7 linked regions of the Homo sapiens genome follow. The protein of the gene in region 7 interacts with the protein of the main gene of each other region in a biochemical or structural test. Each region holds a gene or a part of one and is shown on either strand. Other genes may lie near its edges. The genes, in order: MAGI1, PALS2, DLG4, PTPN3, SNTG2, SHANK1 and CNTNAP4.

The links.
Region 1: the proteins of CNTNAP4 (region 7) and MAGI1 interact in a test that uses a peptide from one of them, tested with the Homo sapiens proteins (one large-scale study listed by IntAct).
Region 2: the proteins of CNTNAP4 (region 7) and PALS2 interact in a test that uses a peptide from one of them, tested with the Homo sapiens proteins (one large-scale study listed by IntAct).
Region 3: the proteins of CNTNAP4 (region 7) and DLG4 interact in a test that uses a peptide from one of them, tested with the Homo sapiens proteins (one large-scale study listed by IntAct).
Region 4: the proteins of CNTNAP4 (region 7) and PTPN3 interact in a test that uses a peptide from one of them, tested with the Homo sapiens proteins (one large-scale study listed by IntAct).
Region 5: the proteins of CNTNAP4 (region 7) and SNTG2 interact in a test that uses a peptide from one of them, tested with the Homo sapiens proteins (one large-scale study listed by IntAct).
Region 6: the proteins of CNTNAP4 (region 7) and SHANK1 interact in a test that uses a peptide from one of them, tested with the Homo sapiens proteins (one large-scale study listed by IntAct).

The regions. Positions count from the first base shown.
Region 1 is NC_000003.12:65,377,919-65,381,418, forward strand, and holds part of MAGI1 (membrane-associated guanylate kinase, WW and PDZ domain-containing protein 1), read right to left. Parts: intron 3,209-3,500; exon of another isoform or gene 3,131-3,208; intron 1,637-3,130; coding exon 1,343-1,636; intron 1-1,342. UniProt on the Homo sapiens protein: Plays a role in coupling actin fibers to cell junctions in endothelial cells, via its interaction with AMOTL2 and CDH5. May regulate acid-induced ASIC3 currents by modulating its expression at the cell surface.
Region 2 is NC_000007.14:24,677,952-24,681,451, reverse strand, and holds part of PALS2 (protein PALS2), read right to left. Parts: intron 2,322-3,500; coding exon 2,119-2,321; intron 1,061-2,118; coding exon 932-1,060; intron 1-931.
Region 3 is NC_000017.11:7,190,158-7,193,627, forward strand, and holds part of DLG4 (disks large homolog 4), read right to left. Parts: intron 3,428-3,470; coding exon 3,326-3,427; intron 2,961-3,325; coding exon 2,788-2,960; intron 1,846-2,787; coding exon 1,736-1,845; intron 1,202-1,735; coding exon 1,110-1,201; intron 658-1,109; coding exon 551-657; 3' UTR 1-550. UniProt on the Homo sapiens protein: Postsynaptic scaffolding protein that plays a critical role in synaptogenesis and synaptic plasticity by providing a platform for the postsynaptic clustering of crucial synaptic proteins.
Region 4 is NC_000009.12:109,421,808-109,425,307, reverse strand, and holds part of PTPN3 (tyrosine-protein phosphatase non-receptor type 3), read left to right. Parts: intron 1-2,455; coding exon 2,456-2,590; intron 2,591-3,500.
Region 5 is NC_000002.12:1,363,349-1,366,848, reverse strand, and holds part of SNTG2 (gamma-2-syntrophin), read right to left. Parts: intron 1-3,500. UniProt on the Homo sapiens protein: Adapter protein that binds to and probably organizes the subcellular localization of a variety of proteins. May link various receptors to the actin cytoskeleton and the dystrophin glycoprotein complex.
Region 6 is NC_000019.10:50,660,803-50,664,302, forward strand, and holds part of SHANK1 (SH3 and multiple ankyrin repeat domains protein 1), read right to left. Parts: intron 1,881-3,500; coding exon 1,163-1,880; 3' UTR 1-1,162. UniProt on the Homo sapiens protein: Seems to be an adapter protein in the postsynaptic density (PSD) of excitatory synapses that interconnects receptors of the postsynaptic membrane including NMDA-type and metabotropic glutamate receptors via complexes with GKAP/PSD-95 and Homer, respectively, and the actin-based cytoskeleton.
Region 7 is NC_000016.10:76,280,401-76,283,900, forward strand, and holds part of CNTNAP4 (contactin-associated protein-like 4 isoform 1 precursor), read left to right. Parts: intron 1-3,500. UniProt on the Homo sapiens protein: Presynaptic protein involved in both dopaminergic synaptic transmission and GABAergic system, thereby participating in the structural maturation of inhibitory interneuron synapses.

The sequences.
Region 1 (3,500 bases), on a different chromosome or scaffold from region 7:
TGAGCTCTACTGGATGAGAATGCTAAAGGGTTGTAGCACCTTGCTGATTCTAGCCAGTTTCCATGTGGATAAGTCATTCAGGGATAGAGCTGAGGTACATGAAAAGCCCACACAGCCTGCACAGCCCTTCCCCTTCTCCCATTGTATTCCATAGTAAGTAACAAATGTGCTTGGGAGATAACAAATGACTTTTTACCCAATCAGGAAGGTGGATCATTTTTGGAGTGTACATCTATAATCAATCCATTGCAATGGGAAGCAGATTCATATATCACTAGTTTCTGCAATCATCTGGGTTTCTATTGGTCTTTGCTAGTGTACCCAGAAGAGAGTGAATCCTTCTGAGAAAGTGACAACTGTGTTTCTCCATACTTTGCTGAAACCCTCAATGTCTGGACGAGACAGGAAAATCGAATGACTCTTAACTCAGATTTTAACCAGACTTTAAATCAAGCAACAGTAAAAATATTATTTAAAATTAAAAAAAATTCCTATGGGGATAGAGTAGAGAAAGAACACAGATGAGGCAGACTAGCATCTCATGTAGTATTTTTACTCCTTACACCTCTGTTTTTCCTAGAGCATTTTTACAGCCGTATGCTCCTTGTAAAAACTCTTAAGACATTCTTAAGACCATTCTGAGGCCCTTGCAATTAGTGCTATCCTATTCAAGACCTTTCGAAAGCCTTGCTTTGGCAAAAACTGTAGACTCTGTATGCTGTCCAGGGGTTCCTATTCAAATTTCTTTTCTTTCCTTTCCTTTTCTTTTTTTTTTTTTTTTAAGACAGAGTCTCGCTGTGTCACCCAGGCTGGAATGCAGTGGCACAATCTCGGCTCACTGCAACCTCCACCTCCCAGGTTCAAGCGATTCTCTTGCCTCAGCTTCCCAGGTAGCTGGGATTACAGGCATGCACTACCACGCCCAGCTACTTTTTGTACTTTTAGTAGAGACAGGGTTTCACCACGTTGGCCAGGTTGGTCTCAAACTCCTGACCTCAAGTGATTCACCCTCCTCGGCCTCCCAAAGTGCTGGGATTACAGGCGTGAGCAACAGCGCCCGGCTGCTATTCAAATTTCACGCAAATCTGATGTATGCTTTAAGTTGTGTATGCGTGATCACATTCTCAGTGTGGAAGTTGAAAGGGTTGAACAAATATTCCCAACCTTCAAAAGGGAAAAAGCTACCAAATCAACTCCATCTCCAATTAAGTCTTTAATTACCCAGAGCAAGAAGCTATAAAGCATTTCTGCACGTGAGGTCTGAGTCAGCTTTCACTCGCAAGAGAACAAAAACTCCCAGGCATGGTGGGAAACCCTGGGTAATTTCACGTTCAGCACTCACCAAAGGTCGTGCCTGCTTCGGGCCTGCTCACCGAGGACACGATGACGAAGCCGAAGCCCTCGTTCTCCCCGCGCCGGATCTCCACGTCGTAGGGCTGCACCACGGTGCTGACCACGCCGCTGCCCCCGCCGCCGCCACTGCCGATGCCGCTGGTGCTGCCGCTGCCCGAGCTCACCGTGTTCAGCGAGTTCTGGCTGCCCTGCGGAGTGCGCTTCTCTTCTGTCAGCGAGGCCGGCTGGTTGCTACTGTGATGAGAGGAGGCTGGCGAGGGCACCTCGTTCTCGGTTTTGGGCACTGTAGCAGAGAGATGCACGCGTACATCACCGTGTCCTGCAGCCCCTCCATCCTGCTGCCCCTCCCTCCTTCCAGCAACTCCTGCTAGAAATCAAAACGTGAACCGAGGGGAGGAGACAGCACCTGGTTTCACAATACCTGGATATACGGATTGAAAGCAGCTTCTCTTGACAAATATTAACCATTCAGTATCTACGAACATTGATCCCACCTAACACCAAATGGGACTCCCAAATAGCGTTTGTTGTTTATAGCATGCTATATGTCGACATCCACACTCAGAATCAAGTCTGCAGCAAGATCGGCCTGCTGTGAAATATTTCCCCATTGCACAAAGGGAAGGGCCTAAGCGTAGGTGAGGGCTACACCCGTGAAGACCGCCATCTTGGCTTCATAGATACAACCTTGGATGCACGTTCACATTGTCATTACTTTCCAGTCACATTTCCACCCAGCTTTTTCCATCAGGCGACAAACAGTAAGGTGATGGTAACGTTGAGGCTACCCGCCCTATGTGGGGTTCATGACAACACCTGTGAGACATACACATGCTTCTCTTCTTAGCTTCCAGGTGTCAACATCGACTCTGATCACAGAACTGGATACACTGGCCTCCTTCTGAATTTAGTCACCGTTCTAGTGTTACCATCAGACTGCAAGGTAAAGCACTCCTAAATAGCCAACACCGTAGGTGGAACCAACTATGCCAAAAAACAAAATGTGTGTTGTGTCCAAGTTTTGGATCAGACTGTATTTATTTCCAAAAGCTTCTCTTTTCATAGATTGTTTTAATTTTGGAAAAATAAGCATAACAAATTTTTAAACCATTTTTAAGCATACAGTTGAGTGGTATTAAGTGCATTCACATTTTTGTGCAACCATCATCATCATCCATCTCCAGAATTTTGTCATTTTCCCAAATTGAAACTCTGTACTCATTAAAAACTAATTCCCCTTCCTATTTCCTCCACCCCCCACCAACCATCATTCTGCTTTCTATCTCTATAAATTTGACTACCCTAGGTATCTCATATAAAGGGAATCAATATTTCTCCTTTTGTGACTAGTTCACTTGCATAATGTCTCTTCATAGATTTGACACGCCTTTTACACAGAGCTAAAAATCCAAAATATTTAAGATTTAAAAAAATAAACCTGAAACAACAAAAAAAATCACATTGCCTTACTATTTCTATTTGGGCCAGGGAAGCGAGATAGTTAGTTTTCATCTCATCTCAAAAACTCGTTCCAGCTGACTGCTTTTAGCTACATGGAATAGTATGTTAAGAAGGATTGTGAGGTCACAAACACACTGGAATTTAACATCTTAATTCTATAATTAATCATATACCATTTAAAATGGGTTATACTCTTTTTTTTTAAAAGAAGTTACCAATTAATTTTATCTGACAGGTATCTGTTTCACTAATATGAATGCCAAGAGAATTCATAATATTTCAGGTCATATTTCTCCAGTAATTCCACTGATAGAAGACAATCACCTCTGCTGCACTCTGGGTTCTGCCTTAAAGGTTTCAAGGTGGGAGCTGCATCCAAAGGTGAACAACCAAGGTGTGTTCAACGTGAGCTTTCAAGGGAAAGGACAAACACTCACACAATTCACTGTCTCAAAATGGCAGATTCTGATACAGCAGTAAACCATGAGTCACTAGAATGGCAAGGAGGGAATGCTAAAATCTGAAGGCAGTTGGAGGAAGGAGGAATTTCCAAGGGAAGAAAGTTATATTTGAGCTGAGCCTGAAAGGATATGTAGTATTTTGAGAATTAAAGTTCAAAGCTTATGGGCAGGAAGAAGGAATCAAAGCTGACCTAGAACTGGCCAGCTCTACAACTTTCTTGTAGA
Region 2 (3,500 bases), on a different chromosome or scaffold from region 7:
GGTATGTTTTAAATGTCTTTATCTCTTAGATATAAATACTGAAGTATTTACAGATGACATGATATCAAAGATTTGCTTCAAAATAATTCAAGGTGAGGAGGAAGTGGGGAGGGGTCTAATTAAAACAAGAAATTGCCACGATTATTGAAGCTAGGCGATCGGCATAGGGACTCATTTATTCCCTCTTTTGTATATATTTTTGAATTTCCATTAAGTAAAAAAGTAGACAGGAAAAAAAGGAAAAAACATGTAATAGAAACTAAACATCAGAACACCCCACTTTACCAATGATAAACCATATAATAAACATGCCTGTTAATGATCTCGGAGCCCAGTTACCCCACTAGTAAAATGAAGGCGTTCAATTAATACGCATATTTTAATATTGGTCCATTTCATTTTACAAAGGGGAACTAAACTTTTGATTTAAAATAAAGTGTACAATGATTTTCAAGTAAAAGAATACTGTTCCAGATCCTAACTACATCTAATTAATTTTCATTCTGTAGCACCTTATATAGCATGTTTATTTCATAAGCATAATTAGCTAAGAGTTGGCCAGGCACGGTGGCTCACGCCTGTAGTTCTAGCACTTTGGGAGGCCGAGGTGGGCAGATTGCCTGAGGTCAGGAGTTCAAGACCAGTCTGGCCAACATGGTGAAACCCCGTCTCTACTAAAAATACAAAAATTAGCCAGGCCTGGTAGCGCATGCCTGTAATCCCAGCTACTTGGGAGGCTGAGGCAGGAGAATCGCTTGAACCCGGGACGGGGAGGTTGCAACGAGCTGAGATCGCATCAATGCACTCCAGCCTGGGTGACAAAGCAAAACTCTGCCTCAAAAATAAATAAATAAAAATAAATTAGATAACAGTTAAACATGCTCAAAAGAAAAGGAAAGATTTTAGAAGGAAAATCGTATGGTTAGCTCACGGTCAGAAGCTTGGTAGTGATTCCTGCATCCACCACAGCCTTGTGCATGGCACGTAACGTCTCTAGCTCCGGAGCCGCAATAAATACCACATAGGGCATAAACTCTGATGTCCTCAATACTTTCAGTGCCTGTGTAAAAGAATAATTATAAGCCAATTTATACAATATTAGAACTAGAATTCTGCTACCCTTTAGTATATATCAAAGGCTGTTTGCACTTGTTCTATGAATTAAAGGACATAACTTAATACTTATCCCTGTTCTGTCCTTCTCATTCCATATAGTACTTTCTTAAAACAGTGATCCATTTATTTTGTTTTGAACTCAGTCTGTTCCTCTTGAACAAAGTATAAAACAATGATCCAAAAATCATCAAGAGTGATGTAAACTCTTTTTTATGTTAATTGTAGAATTCTGTTAATACTCAAAAAGTAGAAATAACCTCAATGTTGATTAATTGGAGAGTGGTTAAATGAATATATATTCATACTATATAGCAATTACAAAGAAAAAAAGCTCTACAGTAACTACCACAAAAAGATCTCCAAGGAATAGTTCTATTTAATAAAACCCCTGAAGAATCTATATAGAATTTTTCCATTTATGTAAAAAGAAACAACAAAAACAGAAAACCCATTACCTTATATATATTTGTATTTAAGGCATAGTGAAATGACTAGAAAGAGACATAAGAAACTATTAACAATTTTTATCTCTGAGTAGGGACGTGAGGTTGGGCTGAGTGTAGCGGAGTGGGAAGGGGTAGGTGACAGAAATATAGAGTGACAAAATGAATAGTGTAGAGGTGTGCATGTGTGTCAGGTAGGAGGGGGAGTGACTTTAATTTTTTATTCTTTATATTGCAGACTTGAGTTTTAAACTTAACATTTCTTAACACAAGCACTTATGCATTACTTGAACAGGTAAATAAATACATACTAAACTTCTATTGTAGATCTAATCACACAGTTTCTATTGCCACCCAAGCCTCTGTTGGCTAATTGTTCAGAGATTTATTTAACTAGCTATGTATACATAATAACATTCTCTATCACCCAAAGGTAATGGAGGGAGTCACCTTTCCACCCTGACAAAACAAACAACCCCAACCCAACAACCCCGACACACATGAAAAAAACTCCACAGAAAATAAAATATAAAACAGCTTTGGAATCCAAGCAGCTTACTTGTGGGTTGACATCCAGAATGCAAGTCCGTCCAGTTTGGACAACCTCAAGAATAGAATCAATTTTGGTTCCATAGAGATTTCCTTCATATTCCCCATGTTCCAAATACTTTCCAGCTTTAATATCTGCTTCCATCTCAGATCGTGACACAAACTTATATGCCTGGCCATCTTTTTCATCTTCCCTTGGTTTCCGTGAAGTAACTAAATAAAATAGTGTTGAGATTTTTGTACAAAGAAATTTTAGGGCATAAAAAATAGACTAAAATACATAGGGTGGCTTAACGTTTTTCCACTGGGTGCAGCAAACTGTAGGCTATGACCAGATCTGATCTGCTTCTTATTTTTGTAAATAAAGTTTTATTGGACCACAGCCATACTCATTTGTTTATGTATCATACATGGTTTCTTTCCCATTAAAATGGTGGTAGTAATTGTGACAGACTGTATGGACTGCGAAGCCTAAAACTTTACCATGTGGCCCTTTAATAGAAAAGTTTCTTGATACCTTAGGGGAATATTTTAAGAGGTAGTCCCCCAAATAAAATTTGTATCCAAAAATATGCTTCTTAAAATCACTTTGAAACTCAAAGTATATTTACCTAGCAGCAGAGCCTTCAATGAAGTTCTTAATTATGGTAAGTGTTTGAGGCATGTTGTGAGTGAGTATCTTTTCAACTGACCAGCACTCTCCTTCTCCTTAGGAATCTATTACATCTTTTCTTTCCACATTAACACTTCCTAACTGCCCCAAAACGTGAGCAAGCAAAGTTCACCTGTTCTTAGTTGTGATACCAATTTTGTAAAGTGCAGTTTTACCCACAAATTATCTATCTTTTATCTTACCTCAAAACCAACGCTTTTAGCTTCCTGTTTATTGATATTCCCAAATGTTAACTGTTCTATTTTATACTTCAGTGGTAGAGCTAGACGCCTCATTATTATTATGGTCTATTAACCTCCTCTCCTCTGACCTGACATATTATTTCTGGGAAAATGAGATTGAATAGCTCAAGTCAAAATTTAGAAGTAGGAGATCCTTTTGTCTGATATTTTACAGCTTTGAATACTTTCAGAGACATACAACCCTTTGCAAGTTGGTCTGTGCTAGGAACGGTTATTACCATTTTTTAAACTGTTGCAAATGTGTACTCTCTGACAACTTTGTTAACAACAGCTTTGAAGAAGAAAAGTAATTTTTGAGCGTGTTATTTCAAGCTTAGCCTTACTCTGGGCTTTGCTGGATCGGATATAAGAAGTATCCTGTTTCTATTAGCTAAGTAGTTGGAGAATAACTGATGGAATTATTAACTACACCAAACTAAACTAAGAAAGTAATCCGAATAAAAAGATGACAGTGTTTTGACTATTTCTAATAAGCCT
Region 3 (3,470 bases), on a different chromosome or scaffold from region 7:
AGGGGCCCGCTGCGGAGTCCCCTGCTTCTCCCCCCAAAAAACCACCTTTGAGAAGAAAAAAAGTGGAAAAAATAAATGAGAAATCAAGGAACATGGGGAATTACGATGAGGGCAGGGGTGACCCCAGACCCTGCCTTAGGAGAGAGCGGAGGCCTGTGGCCCTGCATCCCTGCAGCGGGTGCTCCTCGAGGGGGCCCTGACTTCTGGAATGTGTGTGGGAGAGGATGGGGGAGGGCAGGTGGCCCCCGGTGGGTCTGTGTGTGCATTGGGGGCAGGTGGGGGCGGGGATCCTAAGGAGCAAGGGCTCGGAACAAGGAGCCCAGCTCCCCCCCAGACCCCAGGTTCCTGGCGTTCAGGAGCCCAGTTCTGGGGTGCGGGGATACATGCAGAGGAGTGTCCCCCCTCCAACAGGCTGGATCCAGTTAGAAAGGAAATAAATAAGAAGGGGTGGGAGGGAGGCCGGGGGGAGCCAAGGGCTTGGGCAATTCAGTCCAGACCAAGGGCCCAGGTGATGGAGGCAGGGCGAGTCCAGGCCAAGCCAGGGCAGGAATCAGAGTCTCTCTCGGGCTGGAACCCAGATGTAGGGGCCTGAGAGGTCCTCGATGACACGCTTCACCTTGTGGTAGATCTCCTCAAAGCTGTCACCCTCCACGATGGCTGGGAGTGGGGTGGAGCAGGGAGTGAGGCCAAGGAAGGGCCAGAGGACACCTGGCCAAGGGGGTTGCACCAGCCCAGAGGAAGGGGCACCTCTTTCCAACTCTCCAAGCCATAAGTCCTGGGGCTGCACCCGCCCACAGGGGCACCTCTTTTTTTTTTTTTTTTTTTTTTTTGAGATTGAGTTTTGCTCTTAGCGCCAGGCTGGAGTGCAGTGGTGCGATCTCGGCTCACTGCAACCTCTGCCTCCCAGGTTCAAGCGATTCTCCTGCCTCGGCCTACCGAGTAGCTGGGATTACAGGTGCCCGCCAGTGCTGGGATTACAGGCGTGAGCCACCATGCCGCGCCCACAGGGGCACCTCTTTCTAAGCCATCCACTGGGGGTGGCGGGGGAGCTCTTTCTAATCCGAGCAAGGGCACCCTACATGCTGGCAACAGCCTTGCTGTGGCCTCACCTGAGAAGCACTCTGTGAACTCCTGCTCCAGCTTGGTGGCTCTGTCGAAGGCTTTGCGGGCTTGCTCCTCTGTGATCCGCTTGTTAATCTCTCTGTGAAGAGGGAGGGAGAGCAGGCCTGAGACTGGACCCACCTGACCCTGCCTTTTATCTCCTCTATCCAGGAATGTTAAGTATTCTTCTATTTGGAGCACATAGCAAAAAAAAAAATACAATTCCCAATATCCTCTGGGGCCACAGATGAGAACCACCCCCCACCCCCCTGCCACCCGCAACCGCCCCAGCCAGGTGTGGCTACTCCAGGGACATCTACGGAGCTTCATCCTTCCAGCCTTCAGCCCCAGAGATGGGATTCGGACTCCAATTCCCAACAGCCCTAGAGGCCCTGACTCGCCCCAGCTGGTATGCCCCAGGGGCTGCTGGGAAATGTAGTCCTGTCTAGCCAAGGCAGGAGAGGAGGGGAAAGACCCGATTCCCCCACATCCTCTGGGTTCCAGGGATCCCCCTCAGGGGCTGCTGAAACCGCTGTCCAGGGTTCTGAAGGGAGAGTTGAACGCAGACGCCTTGTGAGGCCCAGGGCCACAGGTGTTGGGGGAGCAAAGGGGAGGCCCCCAGGACCATACTCACAGCACATTCTCCAGGGAGCGGGGGCGGATGAAGATGGCGATGGGGTGCAGGTGGGCCGCCTGCAGCCGCCGCACGGCATTGGCCGAGACATCGAGGATGCAGTGCTTCCCCTGGGGGCAGGCAGGGTGGGCGGAGGGGGGCCAGCGGGTGGCGAGAAAGGACAGAGAGCAGTGCCGGAGGGACACGGACGGGGAGAGGTGGGGAATGGGAAGTTGGCCGAAGGGGAGTGACATGGATGTCAAGAAACACGGGGGCAGAGAGTCAGGCAGGAAGCGGGTATGGACAGAGTAAAAGACAGAGGGAAAGGAAAGGGAAGATGGAGAGCACGGGAGAGGGCAGGGACAGGACAGAATGGAGGAAGGGAGGAGCACCAGGCAGGCAGGGACCCAAGAGATGGTGGCAGAGCCGGGGCAGCAGCGAGTGGGGCGGGGTGTGCAAGGCAGAGGTGACACAGGCGGGAAGGAAAGCCAAGAAAAAGGAGAAAGGAAGTAGGATAGAGGGAGGAGGGAGGGGAGGACGGACAGAGGACAGACAGATGGAAGGAACAAGGAGACAGATGGGAGGGAGTGAGGCAGATGGAGAAAGGAACCGTGGAGGGAGGGAGGGAGGGCAGGGTGAGGAGCAGCGGGGAAAGGAAAGGAGTTAGCAGAGGAGTGGGAGAGGGGAGCCGGGCCCCAGAAAAGGGTGAGGCAGGGGAGAGGGCCAGCGGGGAGTCAGGAAAAAGGGAGGGACCCAGTGGGGAAGGCCAAGCCACCAAAGACAAGGCCATGGGAAGAGAGGAGAAATGGGGCAAGGAGAAGGGAGTGGGGAGAGAAAGAGGCCAGATGGTGGTGGGGAATTTGGGGTCAGGAAGTGAGGGAGGTGGGAGAGAGAGCAGGGGCAGAGAGCAGGCAGTCAGACAGAGTTGCCCAAGAGGAGAAGGAGGTGGAGGAGCGGAGTGGAGACCCAGCAGGGAAAGAGACAGAGAGAGAGAGAGTTAGAGAAAGCTGGAGGGAGGCAGTGGGGTGGGGAGAGGGGAGAAGGAAGAGGACCGGGTGCCCGCCAGGTCCTACCTGCTCTGCCACCTCTCGCACGGACTGGACGCTGGTCCCATAGAGGTGGCTGTTGTACTGGCCGGCCTCAATGAACTTGTGCGCCTGAATGTCCTTCTCCATTTTCTCCCGGGACGACACAAAGTGGTAATCCCGGCCATCTATCTCATACTCCCGCTTGGGCCGTGTCGTATCTGCCAGGAAGTCACCCCACCCCCCAAAGATCTAACCACCATCCCTCTAGCTTAAATCCTGCCTACTTCAATCAAATCCCCATAGTGCCCAGCTGGTCCTTTGGTGAAAGGGAGCTGCCAGGGAGACCAAGACTGCAGAGGGCCAGAACCGCTTCCCCTAGCACCCTCCAGGGCCTCCAAGTCTCTGGCCTGGGCATGGGTACTATGGAATGAGAGGGTGGCTGAGAAGCACCCCTTCTCGGAGAAACCCTGTATCTCCCTACACACCGATCCCCCAGGAGGCTCTGCCTATGGCCCCAGGGATGGGCCTCCCCTGCCCCACCCCCACTTCCACCTTCTCCTCCATCCAAGGCCCCAGCACTCACGGGGAACACAGGATCCAAACTTGTCGGGGAACTCGGAGAGAAGATCATCGTTGGCGCGGTCCTTGGTGGGCCCAAGGATGATGATGGGGCGAGCATAGTGCACTGCAGAGAGAGCCTGGCTTAGGCCGAGCGCAGGGTTGGGGGA
Region 4 (3,500 bases), on a different chromosome or scaffold from region 7:
ATCAGACTGTTCCAGTTACTTTCCTAATACATTGATAATCATTAGGGAACTTGTAAACTGAATAAGTAGCTAATTTCTGTTAGTATCAGTGATACTATTTGTGGTGCTAAATGCTATCTCTCAGCTTCTGATGAACCAAGAGTGAATATATTAAGTTTTTAGCTCTTATAATACTGTTTAGTATTTGTATACATTCAGTAGATCTACTGTTGAGCAAGCCATGAAAATAACTTACTGGATTATATCATTGACTTAGGTTGGGCCTGATCCTCAGGCCAGATGAGAGAAGGAATGGGGAGGCAACTGAAACCATGCCCTCTGTTGCTGAGCTGCCTGGGTTCAAATCCTGCCTCTGTCACTTGAGCTTTAATTTGTTGCTTCTATTTCTTCATCTGCAAAGCTTTGTCATCTGCATGCATCCAATGCCAGCAGGGCTGGGTTCTGGTCTTGTATTGTGGCACAAGAAAATACCCCTATTTTGGTGACTGAAAGCAACACCCATTCTGTTATATCTCATGACTTTGTGAGTCAGGAATCCTAGAAGGGCTTGGCCAGAGGCCTCTTCTGCTCTGTGTGGTGTAGATAGGGATTTCTCAGTGAATGTGGCCAGAGGATCCAAGATAACTTCTCTTGCATACCTGGTGTCTTGATGGAATGGTTGGAAGGCTGGACTCACCTGGACTCCTTAGCATCCCCATCTGGATACTCCAGGAGGGTGGTTGAATTTCTTACATGGACACTCAGGGTTCCAGGAGCGAAAGGCAGAACCGTTCAGCCTTCTTAAGGGTGAGACCTGGCACTGGCACAGCGACTCTGTTGCTGAAAGCAGTCACAAGCCAACCCAGATGCAAGACTCAAAGAACTTGCAGTCATCTTTAATCTGCCACAGGGGATCATTTGGGTTGGGAGGATGGCTTGGGAGGACAAGTCAGCAGTTCTTTTACTACCTGTGCCAGCTTCAGCATACTGGTGAATTTCAAGTCTCATTACCTCCATTTTACAGATGAGGACACTGAGGCTTAGAAGGGTCACATGACTTGCCCAGCCCCTAGAGATACAGATACACATCTGCTTATTGGGCCTTCTGAAAGGTTCCACATAAAAAGAAATTTGTTGGGTTATTTTCCAAGCTTATGGGACAATGGAACACTTTTTTTTCAGAGAGTCCCTATTAATAACCCATGACACATTAAACCTTGGAGTTGGGCAGTTTGCTCCCCTTGTTTTGATCCTGTGCTCTTCATCACTGGCAGTGTGGTTTCTGATGTAGGCCTGCCTCAGAGGAAAGAGTCTCCCAGTGATGCTGTTGTGAGCATTTTGATCAGGGTGACAACAGCATTTCTTAATGTGAATTAGTACATGATGTGCTACAGGGCGATTCATATTGTTTATGTTCTTTTGTTTGTTCTTTGTTCTGTTTTGTTTTTGTTGGTTGGTTGATGTCATGTCACAAGGAAATGTGTAGAATGTTTTCATAAGACATTAAATCCTAGTTTAAAATTTAGAGATGCCAGAACCAAAGTTGTCACCCTTTAACAGGGTGACAGGCTTCATGCTCTATTCTCTCAAATAATTCATTCTCTGAGGGGTCTAGATAGCTAAGATTTAAATTCTCTAGGTATAAATAAAATTCAAAAGTAACCTTCAGGGTAGCACATTTCAAAGAACGTAGCCTGAAACTCTGTATAATTTTTTGTTTTTGGAGACAGAGTCTTACTGTGTTCCCCAGACTGGAGTGCAGTGGTGCGATCTTGGCTCGCTGCAACCTCTGTCTCGGGGATTCAGGGGGTTCTCATGCCTCAGCCTCCCAAGTAGCTGGAATTATAGGCATGCGCCACTATACCTGGCTAATTTTTTGTATTTTTAGTAGAGGTAGGGTTTTGCCATGTTGGCCAGGCTGGTCTTGAACTCCTGACCTCAAGTGATCCACCCGCCTCAGCCTCCCAAAATGCTGGGATTGCAGGCATGAGCCACTGTGCCCAGTTTGAAACTACTTTCTAAGCGCATTTTCAGATTCTCTCTCAAAGATTTACCAGTGATTTATAGTGACAGCTCCTGCCAGCTAGGATGATGAAGAGCACCTGAAAAAATGGTTAATATTTTTACTTAGGCCAGTGTGAATAAAATAAGAATTCCTTGAAATCACTGGAGCTGTATTTCTGTGTGATCCTGGAATTCCTTCTAATCTGGTTAGGTTTGGTTATATTCTGGAAACAGCTTTGTTGCTTGAGTAGTGAGGACAAGAAAGGATTTTCACCCGAAGAGAAGAAATCACATAAGGAAATTCCAGGACAGACAGGAATCGCTTTTGAGCTGTCTCCCTCTACTCCCCATAACCTTGGCATTAACCTGCCGTCCTTCAGACAAGAAGCATGTGTAGACTGTTTCACACATGCAGTAATTTCTTTCCTGTTGAACGTCAGTGTAGAAAGTGAACCTGCATCTGGTTTTTCAGGTCGGTAAATAACCAATATTGCAAAAAGGTGATTGGCGGGATGGTGTGGAACCCAGCCATGCGGAGATCCTTATCAGTGGAGCACTTAGAAACCAAGAGTCTGCCTTCTCGTTCCCCTCCCATTACTCCCAACTGGTATGTCCTCCTTTTTTTTTTTTTTGTACTACCCAACAGTAGACACTTTATCTCTTTTAAAAATAAAAACTCAACTTATAAACTCCTAAAGATAGATGACCTACAATTTGCATTTTAGGCTCTTGGCAGAAGTAACTGTTTTCATGAAGTACACAAGTCTAGCTAAATGTTTTCCATCGTGTATAATGCTGAGATGCTCTTTTTAAAAAAACTTATTCAATCTAAATAGTTTGGGAAACTCGAGCCTGCTGAAAGGCCTCCTTTGGAATCACAGCACACATTAGCATATTAAACACTCTGAGACGTCCAATAATAAAAAAGTACGGTTAGCTTTACTTAATTCATGTTTTCCATTAATATCCCACAAAATAAACTTTAGGGAAAACTAACGCAGGTACGTGATGTAAATGATGTAAGGATGTATGACCTTCAGCAGCAGAAGCAAATGCACATCAGTAAGTAGCAGGCCAACTTAAGAGGATGGACTCAGCTTAAAAAGAAATAGGTGGTCGTTTGGTAAAGTGAGAAGGGCACTGGGTTTGTAGCAGAAAGACCTAAACTCAGGTTTTGGCCCTTCTGTTAATTAACAAGTTTCTTTACCTCTGTAGCCTCAGTTTCCCCATATCTAAAAAGATGATAAAAACTACCGCAAATGAAATAATAATGTACAAGTACGTAGTAAGCTTTTAAAAGAGTCAGGTGGAATTATCATTATCTTATTATAATGGTCCTCAAAGACATCACACCATTTTTGTGAATACCTCCAAAAAGGCTAGGGGCCAGAGGGGAAACCTAGCAGGGAATCATTGCCCCCAGCTCCACACTGGAGTAAGAGTGCGTGGCTGTAAATACCTGATCCAGGATCTGCTAAGCCTAAGAGAAACTGGGAGACAGGCAGACAGAGGAGATG
Region 5 (3,500 bases), on a different chromosome or scaffold from region 7:
GGCCGCCCTTGGGAGGAACAGTGCCTGCTGTGTGGGTGCATGTGGGCTTCATGCCAAGGCCACGCTTGGGAGGAACAGCGCCTGCTGTGTGGGTGCGTGTGGGCTTCATGCCAAGGCCACGCTTGGGAGGAACAGCGCCTGCTGTGTGGCGCAGAATAGGCAGTGTGCACAGCACGGCGGGAAGCGAGGAGGGGCCTTGTTCACCCACCCTGTCCCCATGGCTACGGGAGAGCAGGAAAGGGTGCCCCAGGGAGAGTTTCCTAGAGAGACGGTTATACCCCTACCCCCTCCCAATAAAAAAACTGAAACAAACTCCTGGATCCTTACCTCCGCATGTTACAGACACTAAATGTCCTGTAAAAGCAAAAATGACCCACAAAAGGTTCATCTTCTCTCCACAAACTGCCCCACATAAAGTCCCTGTGTCAAATCAACAGAAAAGTCCACAGTGAACCCCAAAGCTGACACAGAAGTTAAAGAAACTGTTTTTAGAAGTTATTCAGTTACTGGGGAAAAATCATCTTCCTGTTTTTGATGGTAAAATACGAATCTTGCCGTCCTGCCACCCCCATTCTATTGGTAGAAAAGAAGGTCTAAGTGCATTCTTCTAATGTTGTCTTTCTTCTTTGTTTGCATAACAAAATTCAATAAAATGAAGAAAATAAAATTTATTTTGAGGTGACTGCTAATTGATTGACATCCTATTTTCTAAATCTCACCAAAATTCTAGCATATTCTAAACTGCTGAGATGACACCAGAAAGAAAGATAAATCATTTTCAAGAAGAAGAGCAACGCTAAGGCCTGTCAGTTCCACAGACATGCTCCTTTAAGCTCTCGAAAGGCAGGATCTTGGTCATTTTCATTCCATGGCAGAATGAGGGGGTGGAGAATGGGGCCCCAGGCAGGATTGGAGGTCACACATCACCGGGTAAAGCCCTCCCTCCCCAATAACATCCATCTCAGCTTTTCGGAGCTGCTTTTCTTTATAACTCAAAGACGTGACATCTCAAAAATGACTTCAAACTTCCCTGACAGCATGAAGTCCCCTCGGCCTCTCCCTGGTCCTCTCTGCATGCCTTTCTTTTAGAAACTGCTTCTCTCTTGCAATAGGTACAGGACCCAGCTGGACCAGCCAGAGCCCAGTGGCAGCTTGGTACAGATGACAGGGAGAGGGAGGCCAAGATGCCTACATTGGTGTGACCAGCTGTGAGAAGTGAATACCTGAAGCTTGTTCTAATACCACTAATGCCAAGTGGAGAGCCAGCGAGCCAGCCTGCCGGAAGAGGACTTCAACACAGAGGAACACCCCATGCAGGGATACACAAAGAACACTGGGGGACATTGGGTACCAACATGCTGGGAGCTGCCCCCAACCTCCTAGTGACTGCAACCAAAGGCTTCATCTTTCCTTTATTCCAATTTGAATTAAGTTCCTTCCTATGCATGTGAATGACTCTTAACATTGACAGCTACAACACTAATTATTTTGATCATTTCAAATTGTGATGAGCAAAATGTTCAAGATGTTGAGGTGTATTCTCCTGCCAAAGCTTCATAGTCTTTAGGTAGTTTCATAAAGCGTCATTACACTTGGTAACCAGCATCCCTCACTCTGGTCATGAGTGGAACCCAGGGCCTGCCCAGCCCTTGTGTTAAACTTTAATTCAAGCTGGATTCGCCAATCATACCCAAAGCGTGAGACTGTACTCAAAATCTTTTATTCATTTTGACTTATCCCTGTTAGAGGAAAAAAAAAAAACCAAGTAGCTTTCTAGAAGAAACACAAGGTTCTTGCAAACTTAGCACATATTGTAATTCAATGTATGTATGTGTTTCCAAATAGCAATTACTGAGCTTTAAAGGGACTTTTGGAGAAAAAGAGCCATAATGACCATATCATTCATGCTTCAGGGTTTTGGGTTAATTTTATTTTTTTTGAGACGGAATCTCACTCTGTCGCCCAGGCTGGAGTGCAGTGGCACAACCTCCACTCACTGCAAGCTCCGCCTCCTGGGTTCACGCCATTCTCCTGCCTCAGCCTCCTGAGTAGCTGGGACTATAGGTGCCTGTGACCACACCCAGCTAATTTTTTTTTTTTTTTTTTTTTTTGGTATTTTTAGTAGAGATGGTGTTTCACCATGTTAGCCAGGATGGTCTCAACCTCCTGACCTCGTGATCCGCCCATCTCGGCCTCCCAAGTAGCTGGGACTACAGGCGCCCACCACCATGCCTGGCTAATTTTTTTTTGTATTTTTAGTGGAGACAGGGTTTCATGTGTTAGCCAGGATGGTCTCGATTTCCTGACCTCGTGATCTGCCAGCACCGGCCTCCCAAAGTGCTGGGATTACAGGCGTGAGCCACCGCGCCCGGCCAGGGTTTTGGTTTTATACATAGAAACTGAAAATTGCTTTACAAGTTCCCAAGATGTATCCAATAATAGCACAATGCACAGAAATAAGAAGCCAAACAGCTACCAGTAATAATGCACATATTCAAAACAACATCAATAGTTTTTGGTACCATAAGTTGAAGTTACACTGCATAATCTTTGAAAGTACTAGCAATGGCTGGGTATGGTGGATCACGCCTGTAATCCCAGCACTTTGGGAGGCCGAGGTAGATGGATCACCTGAAGTTAGGAGTTTGACACCAGCCTGGCCAACATGGTGAAATGCTGTCCCTACCAAAAAAAAAAAAAAATACTAAAAATTAACTGGGCATGGTGGCAGGTGCCTGTAATCACAGCTACTTGGGAGGCTGAGGCACAAGAATCACTTGAACCCGGGAGGCGGAAGTTGCAGTGAGCCGAGATTGTGCCATTGCACTCCAGCCTGGGCAACAAGAGTGAAACTCTGTCTCAAAAAAAAAGAAAATAAAAGAAATTACTAGCTAGCAGTGAAATCGGTCACACCACTAAATTCCACACTAAAACTCAATGAGTAGTACTGAAAGCCAGGAATGAAATTAAAGCTTATGAAACAATACTCAATCCATTATGTCATGATCCAGATACTGAATAAACAAGCATCCTGTGGGCATTTCACTGAACATCTTCAATTCAGCCAAAAGCTGAGTCATGATATCTCTGGTCTGGTTAATTTTCTAACCAAGTATTACCAGCAAGGCTATCTTGAATTATGAATTTTTAACTAGAGCTGATTGAAATCACATTTTGACATTTTGTTTGAACAAAATACTTGTGTTGAGTTCTAAGCTGGGGACACCCTGTATGGATCCCTCGCTGCACTCCTCACCTGTGTTCACATGTCGGTCATGGGCTGATGTGTTTCCACCTGCAGAGGAAAGGGCACCTGCTGGCTCTCTGTGCAGGAAACAGTGTGGAATGAACAGTCCAATATGTTGGGTTAGGGAGTGTCAGCCTAATACAATGACAGAGAGAGGCTCTCCCAAAGTTTATTTGGGACTATGTAGGCAATTGCAAGCTGGGACATATGTGCTATAAGAGATTATAGGGATATCCAAAGAGGCTGGGATTCA
Region 6 (3,500 bases), on a different chromosome or scaffold from region 7:
AAACAGAAAGGGGCAAGGGAGTGGGAGCCTGGCAAAGAAGAAGAGAATGAGCATGTGTGAGAGAAACAGTTTCTGGGAGGCAAGTGTGCAAAAGGCGTGACCAAAAGTGACGGTGCAAAAGGGGCAAGAGGGAAGGCGGGGGGTGGGGGGCTAGGAGTGTCATGGTGAGAGGGGAGAGTTGGGGAGTGGAAGAATCTGGGGTTTTTAAGAATAAGAAGGGAAAGTGCTTCAACGTAAGAAAATGGAGGTAAGAGTGTGTCAGGAGGGGTGCATAAGATAGCAAGTGTGCAAGGGCTGAGCAAAGAGCAGGGCACTCCAGAGAATGAATGATGTGCATGGAGTCTGTGAGGGGGAGGGAAAATGTGTCCCAAGTGTGTCTGCAACAAGGGTCCAGAGCGAGCGGGGAGGAGGAGATGTGAAATGGAGTGTGTAAAGGAGGGCCCTGGTAGGGGAAAAGTGTGTAAGCAGCAAGAAGCAGAGAAGGAGGCATGGAGCGTGAGAAAGGAAATGCAGCGTGTGCGAGGAGAGCAGAGTGTATTTGAGCGGGCCTCGCCAGCCAGAAGCAAAGGCAGAATGTGCAAGACAGCGAGAGGGCAAATTTGTGCAAAATTGCAGCCCGGGGACGGGAGGGGAGAGAGGTGAGCAGGCGTGCAACGGAGCGTGCAAGAGGCTGAGGGGGGCAGCTGTGTGTGCTGGGGAGAGGGGAAGGGGGGAGAGCTGAGGGGCCTGGAGAGAGTGGGAAGGGTTGTTAGAGGGGTGGCAGGTGGTGGAATCCGAGGGCACCCCCTTCCCCTGCGGCCTGGGGGACAGTCCCCATCCAATCGGGCTCAGGGCTGACCCTCTATGGCTCTGTCTATCCCCTCCCCCCAGAATAGGCCCTTCCCTCCTTCTCAATTCCCCTCTGTAATTTCTCCTATCCCCCCTCCGCTCCCCGCTTCACACACACACACACACTCTTGTGTCAGCTGCCCCCCTTCAGTGAGGTGCAAATGTCCGGCCTGGATTGGGCCACCTGGTGACCTCTGGCCTTGGGAGATGAGGGCAGGGCGCAGTTTGAACAGAGTCCCTGGCCCGGGGAGAGAATGACAGTCAGGGGTCAGAGGTCAAGAGGCCAGCAGGCTCAAGAGTTCTGTGGACGGGGCTGGTCCGTCCAGGCCAGCCATCACCTCTCCAGGAAGAATTTGAGAGCCCGGTCGATGTTCATGCGGTGGCCCACCCTGGTCACACCTAGATCGACGTAGTCCTCCTTGGTCAAGGCGGGCAGGTGGGAGCCATCGATCTCGTGGTCCAGGAACTGGGCTCGGTGCTCCGCCAAACCCAGCCACTCCAGCCAATCAGCCACGTCGAACTTGGTCCAGAACCCCAGAGGTTTAGCGCCAAACGGCTTGTCCGGGGGCAGCGAGAGCAGGCGGGTCGGTGAGAGGGAGCGCGAGGCCCCTGACAAGGCTCCCCCGAGCCCCCCGGATATCCCCGGGTGTGGCGGCACAAAGACTGGGGCGAAGGGGTCAGCCGAGCCTCCTGCCCCTCCAGTTGGGGAGCCACGGATGTCAAAGAGGCCTGGGTAGAGGGGTCCGGAAGGCAGGATGGGCAGGGACGAGGGCCTGGGCGCAGGGCTGACCTTGTGCTCCGAGGCGGGCAGCAGCGAGGGGCTGGGGGCCCGGCGGAGCAGAGGGGGCCGCATCTCGAACTCCACGCCCTGGAGGTGGCGGGTGGACGTGGAGGAGGAGGAGGCTGAGGGTGAGGTGGCCCCTGGGGCCGCAGCGGCTGTAGGGGAGACCCCTGTTCCGGTGGGGAGTGGCGGCAGAGGTGGTTTGGGCCAGTTCTGAAACAGGCTGCTGACAGGCTTGGAGAGGAGTGAGGACTGGGAGTCGTCGGAGAGTCTGGAATGTGACAAGGGGGCAGTGGGGGAGGACAGGGATTTAGGGGGCAAGGGCAGGGGTGAGAAAGAGGCAGAGGTCAAGATATAGGGAGAGAGGAGGAGAGACATAAGGGTAGGGGGAGAGACGGAGGAGAGACGGGAAGAAATGGAGGGAGCAAGGGGTAAGACGGCCGGCCGTCGAGGAAAGAAATGAAGGGAGAGAAAGATGAGAGGACAGGGAGAGGGCGACAGTTAAGAGAGATGAAAGAAAAAGAGACATTAAGTGATAATAATAATAATCGTCACCGCTTACTGATGCTCACGTGTGCCAGGCATTGTTCTAAGTGCTTTACATGATTGCATCTCAGTTTAATCCCCACGACAGCCCTGATGCAGGTTACTATTATTATCAGCACAGAGAGGTTAAATAACTTGCCTAAGGACACACAGGAAGTGGCAGAGCCCGGTTATATGGCACCAAAGTCTGAGCTCTTCACCACTATTCTATACTGCCTTTCAGGTTATGGCCAGTCGTAGCAGAGTGAAAGATGGGGAGACAGTGAGAGAGAGACAAAAAGAGGGTGAGCATCCAGGGGAGAGAGATGGAAGGGACAGGGGACACAGAGAGAGAGAGATGAAGAGAGGGAGATGAAAGAGAGAAGAAACAAGGGGAGAAAAAGGTTCCCCTCATCCCTTTCGTTCCCTCCCCTCCAGCACTGTCCCACCTCAGGGCCTTTGAACTGGCTGCTCCCCCTGCCTGGCTCACTCTTGCCCTGGGCAGCTGCTCCCTCTCCACTTTCATTACTCTGCCCACCTTGCCTGTTACATGAGAGACCTTCTCCACCCATCCCATTGTGGTAGCTTTTTTTGTAGGATGGTTGCAATTATTTTGTTTACTGCCCCGCCCCCACTCCTATGTCCCTAGACTATGAGCCCTGTGGAGTTGCACAGTCTTTGCCTGTCCTGTCCAGCAGGGGATCCCATCACCCAGAAGGGCACTCTGCACACATAGGTCATGAGTCAATAATTAATGCAATTGTTGACTGAATTAAGCATCCTTCCTGTTGCTGCTACAAGCAGTGGAAAAAAAAAAAAAGAAAAGAAAAAAAAAATCCTCTTCTCTAACCAGAATACTTAAGAATAGTCAAGGAATTGCATTCAGTTCTTAAAGGCCTAATAAACCCACATTTGTTTGTTTATTTTTACAGCGTAGGAGCATTGATTCAAGTTGCTCTAATAATATACACTTCCTTTTTCTTTTCTTTCTCTCTCTCTCTCTCTTTTTTTTTTTTTTTTTAAGACAGGGTCTCACTTTGTTCCCCAGGCTGCAGTGCCTTGGTGTCATATCAGCTCACTGCAGCCTCAACCTTCCAGGCTCAAGTGATCCACCCACCTCAGCCTCCTGAGTAGCTGGGACTACAGAGGCAGGCCACTGTGCCCAGCCTCCTTTTTCTTTTCTTTCTTTTTTTTTTTTTTTCAACCTGGGAGCATAGATTTAAGTTGCCCCAAATATACACTCCCTGAACCCACATTTGAAGGTCAGACACATTTGGATAGCAGACCTTCAAACAGAATTCAAGTGAACTCTGTAGATGGACAAGGATATTTAAAACCTGCTCCCAACCCTCTGTGTATCTGAAGC
Region 7 (3,500 bases):
TAGGTATATGTGTATGTAGATATCTAAACTACTAGACTCGTGCTCATTTGTATATACGTATATGTGTATGTAGATATCTGTAAACTACTAGACTCATGTGCTTGCATATTTTTGGTGGCCCTGTTAAGTACTTATCTGTCTAAAGATGAAATATGTTGAATGAACCACGCTCCCTGCCTACTAGTATCCTGTCTGACATTTCAAAAGCAGTGGACTAGCCATAATTTTTTTCTCTTTGTTCTCATCAAGATGAGCTTTTACAATTATATTGAAGTGTCCCTTCCATCAAAGTTTAGAGACGGATCCTTGCAGATGGGTGTGCTCTTTGAGAAGCTGCACTGGCTGTTCTTGGTTTCTTTGCTTGCTACTAAGAGACATGCATTAAGAACAGAGACATTTCTCTATTTTTTAATAGCTCTTATAAATCCAGTTTTTGAACATTAAGACATGGTTGAAGATGGGGTCAACTTACCCCAAAAGAAGGAATGGGTACAGTAGTAAGGCTGATAAGAGTTTGCTTTTATTTTAACTCTTGCAGATTATGTGAGGGAGGCTCTCTAGTTACTGGTATACTGAGCCGTACTCTTGAGAATAATTAATGCTCCCCAATGACTTAATTAGAAGTTAACATCTCACTGTGTTCTTTCTTTTCTCTGATGGAAATAAAGGCCGTATCTGATACCTACCCTAAAAGAAGCACTGAAGGATAGATGAAGGCAAATTGCCTAAGTAGATGATCACTCTTGTGGGTCCTGGGAGACAGCTGGACAGATTCTCACATTGTTAAAACTCAACCTTGTAATTCTTTCTAGAAGCTACTTTCTTTTCCTCCCCCCACCATATTTACTCCTATAGCAGAAAATAACTAGAATGCAATAGTAAAGTACTGATAAAATATAATTCTATGAGGCAATGCATAAATGGCTAGCCCCTATAAAGATCAGCACGTACTTTGACTCACTTTTCTAATAGCAATGGTGATTTATTTTCATCTATTCAGTCCATTTTCTCCACTTCTTATTACATGCATCTCAATAATCTCTGATAAAGGCAGCCTCTAGCTCTGGAGATAACGTGACTCATGGGCCAACATGGGGATCAAACATAACTTTCACATAATACCTGGTGCTTACTCTAGGAAATAAAGATTATTGTCTTGTAAAATTAATTTTGGAATTTATATCATATGTAAGCAATTTCTGTATTGGAGCTAATGAGTATATCAAGATTAAATTGACTTTTGTTAAAGAAAATAGATTAATAGAATTATATAACATCTATCATAAGATAATAAAATATTTAACTCAGGTTGGTAAACTGTGGCCCATGGGCTGAATCTGACCTGCTAGTAGTGACTGTTTTTGTATGACCCATGGGCTAAGAATAGTTCTTCCATTTTTAGCTGAAAAAAATTAAAAGAAGAATTCTTCATGGTAAAAAATAATTATATGAAATTCAAATTTTATTCTTCCACTTATTAGTAAACCTGCATGACAAAAATTTCTACTCAAATATTAGTATTATATTTTGAATTTTATCAATTAAATTTTATTAAGATTGTTTACCCTCTTACTATGTAACTACTTACATAAGATTCTTTACTCTCTGGCACTTTATATAAAAAGTTAATTGACCCCTATTTAAATAATATACAATAAAATGATAAGACATGAAAAGTGTATAAATTATACTTCTATGATAAAATTTAGTCTTAATTATTTAGCACACAAATATATACTTGCAGAGTTGTGGTACTGAACGCAATGCTATTATTGCCAGGAACTGTAACAGAGGATATCTTCAAGTTAATGTTTCCTTGTATGTTTTTTCTTAAAGACTTTATTGTTCAAAAATCTTGATATTTCAGTGGGTATAAATTATTTGTAAAATTCCCACAGTTTTAATCTCAAGTGGTCTTGTTAGGATAAGATATTTGATGAAATATATAAGTAATATAAGTTCAATGAAGTATATAAGTAATATAAGTTCAATTAACTGTACAAGTAATTGCAACTTAGATGTTTTGAACAAAAATTCTGCTGTTATTTTACATTTTCATGAGTATAAAATATTCCACTCTATCTTAATCAGCAACTTACATTTGGAATCAAAGATCATATGAGGAAAATGTTTTTGATAGAAGAGTATTTTTGCTCCTGTGACTTTTAAAGCAGCAGCTTTCTAAAAATTCTGAAATTGGCCAACTTTCTAGAATAAACTGAAAAATAGATTTTCATTTAAGCACTGCCCACTAAGAGCTCATGATATTTAAGCAAGTGATTTTCACTTACCCTTGTCAATAATAAATTTCTGGGTAAATGGTTTGTGTATTTGAAATTGTATTTATTTTAGAATTCCAGGAACTGATCTTTGGCCCCATTTTATTTACGCTATACTTTTTCCTACAGTTTTTTGAAAAATTAAATTAAAAATATGATGTAATATCATTTAAAAACCCATTTTCATTTTTTCAGTTTTTTTTCAAAACAAATGGTCACTTGTTAAAATAGTTTATTTTTTCATTATATTGTTTTTAGTGCTTCAGCTTTAAATGAAGATTTCTAAGTCTCATCAAAAGGCCAATTTCCAAAAAGAAAATAAACCCCCCCACCAAAAAAACTAGGATAGTCTCAAAGAGCTTAACTGAAATATGACTTTCTCTGAGTGTCAAAGGAATTGTGATGAGATTCGTGATCATCCACTGTAAGTAGACAACGATTAGGGATAATGACATTGGCATTACATGGCTTTGAGTTTTTAAAAATAGAATATCAGCTCTGCTCTACAAATACCGATTTTTCTTGTTTAAATACTATGTTTAAAATTTAAAGCTATTCTACTTCAGATTAAACAATATTGAGGCCTTAATATTGTTCACTAATGAATCATATGACCTTTAGGTTGCCAATTAGTCCCAGGTTGTTTAAGAAATCGTTCTGTTATAAAGACACATGCACATGTATGTTCATTGCAGCACTCTTTACAATAGCAAAGACATGGAATCAACCTAAGTGCCCATTAGTGATAGACTGGATAAAGAAAACTGGTACATATACACCGTGGAATACTACGTAGTCACAAAATAGAATGAGATCACATACTTTGTAGTGCCATGGATGGTGCTGGAGACCACTATTCTTGGCAAACTAACAAGGGAACAGAAAACCAAATACTGCATGTTCTCACTTATAAGTGGGAGCTAAATGATGAGAACACATGGACACATAGAGGGAAACAACACACACTGGGGCTTTTTGGAGGATGGAGAGTGGGAGGAGAGAGAGAATAAGGAACAATAACTAATGGGTACTAGGCTTAATACCTGAGTGTTGAAATAATCTATACAACAAACCCCCATGACACAAGTTTACTTATGTAACAAACCTGCACTTGTACCCCTGAACTTAAAAAATAAAAGTTAAACAAACAAAAGAAGTCCTTCACTATCCTTTAAAAAATATTTTCATTTTGTTTTCACTGACTGAAAGTTTACAGAATGA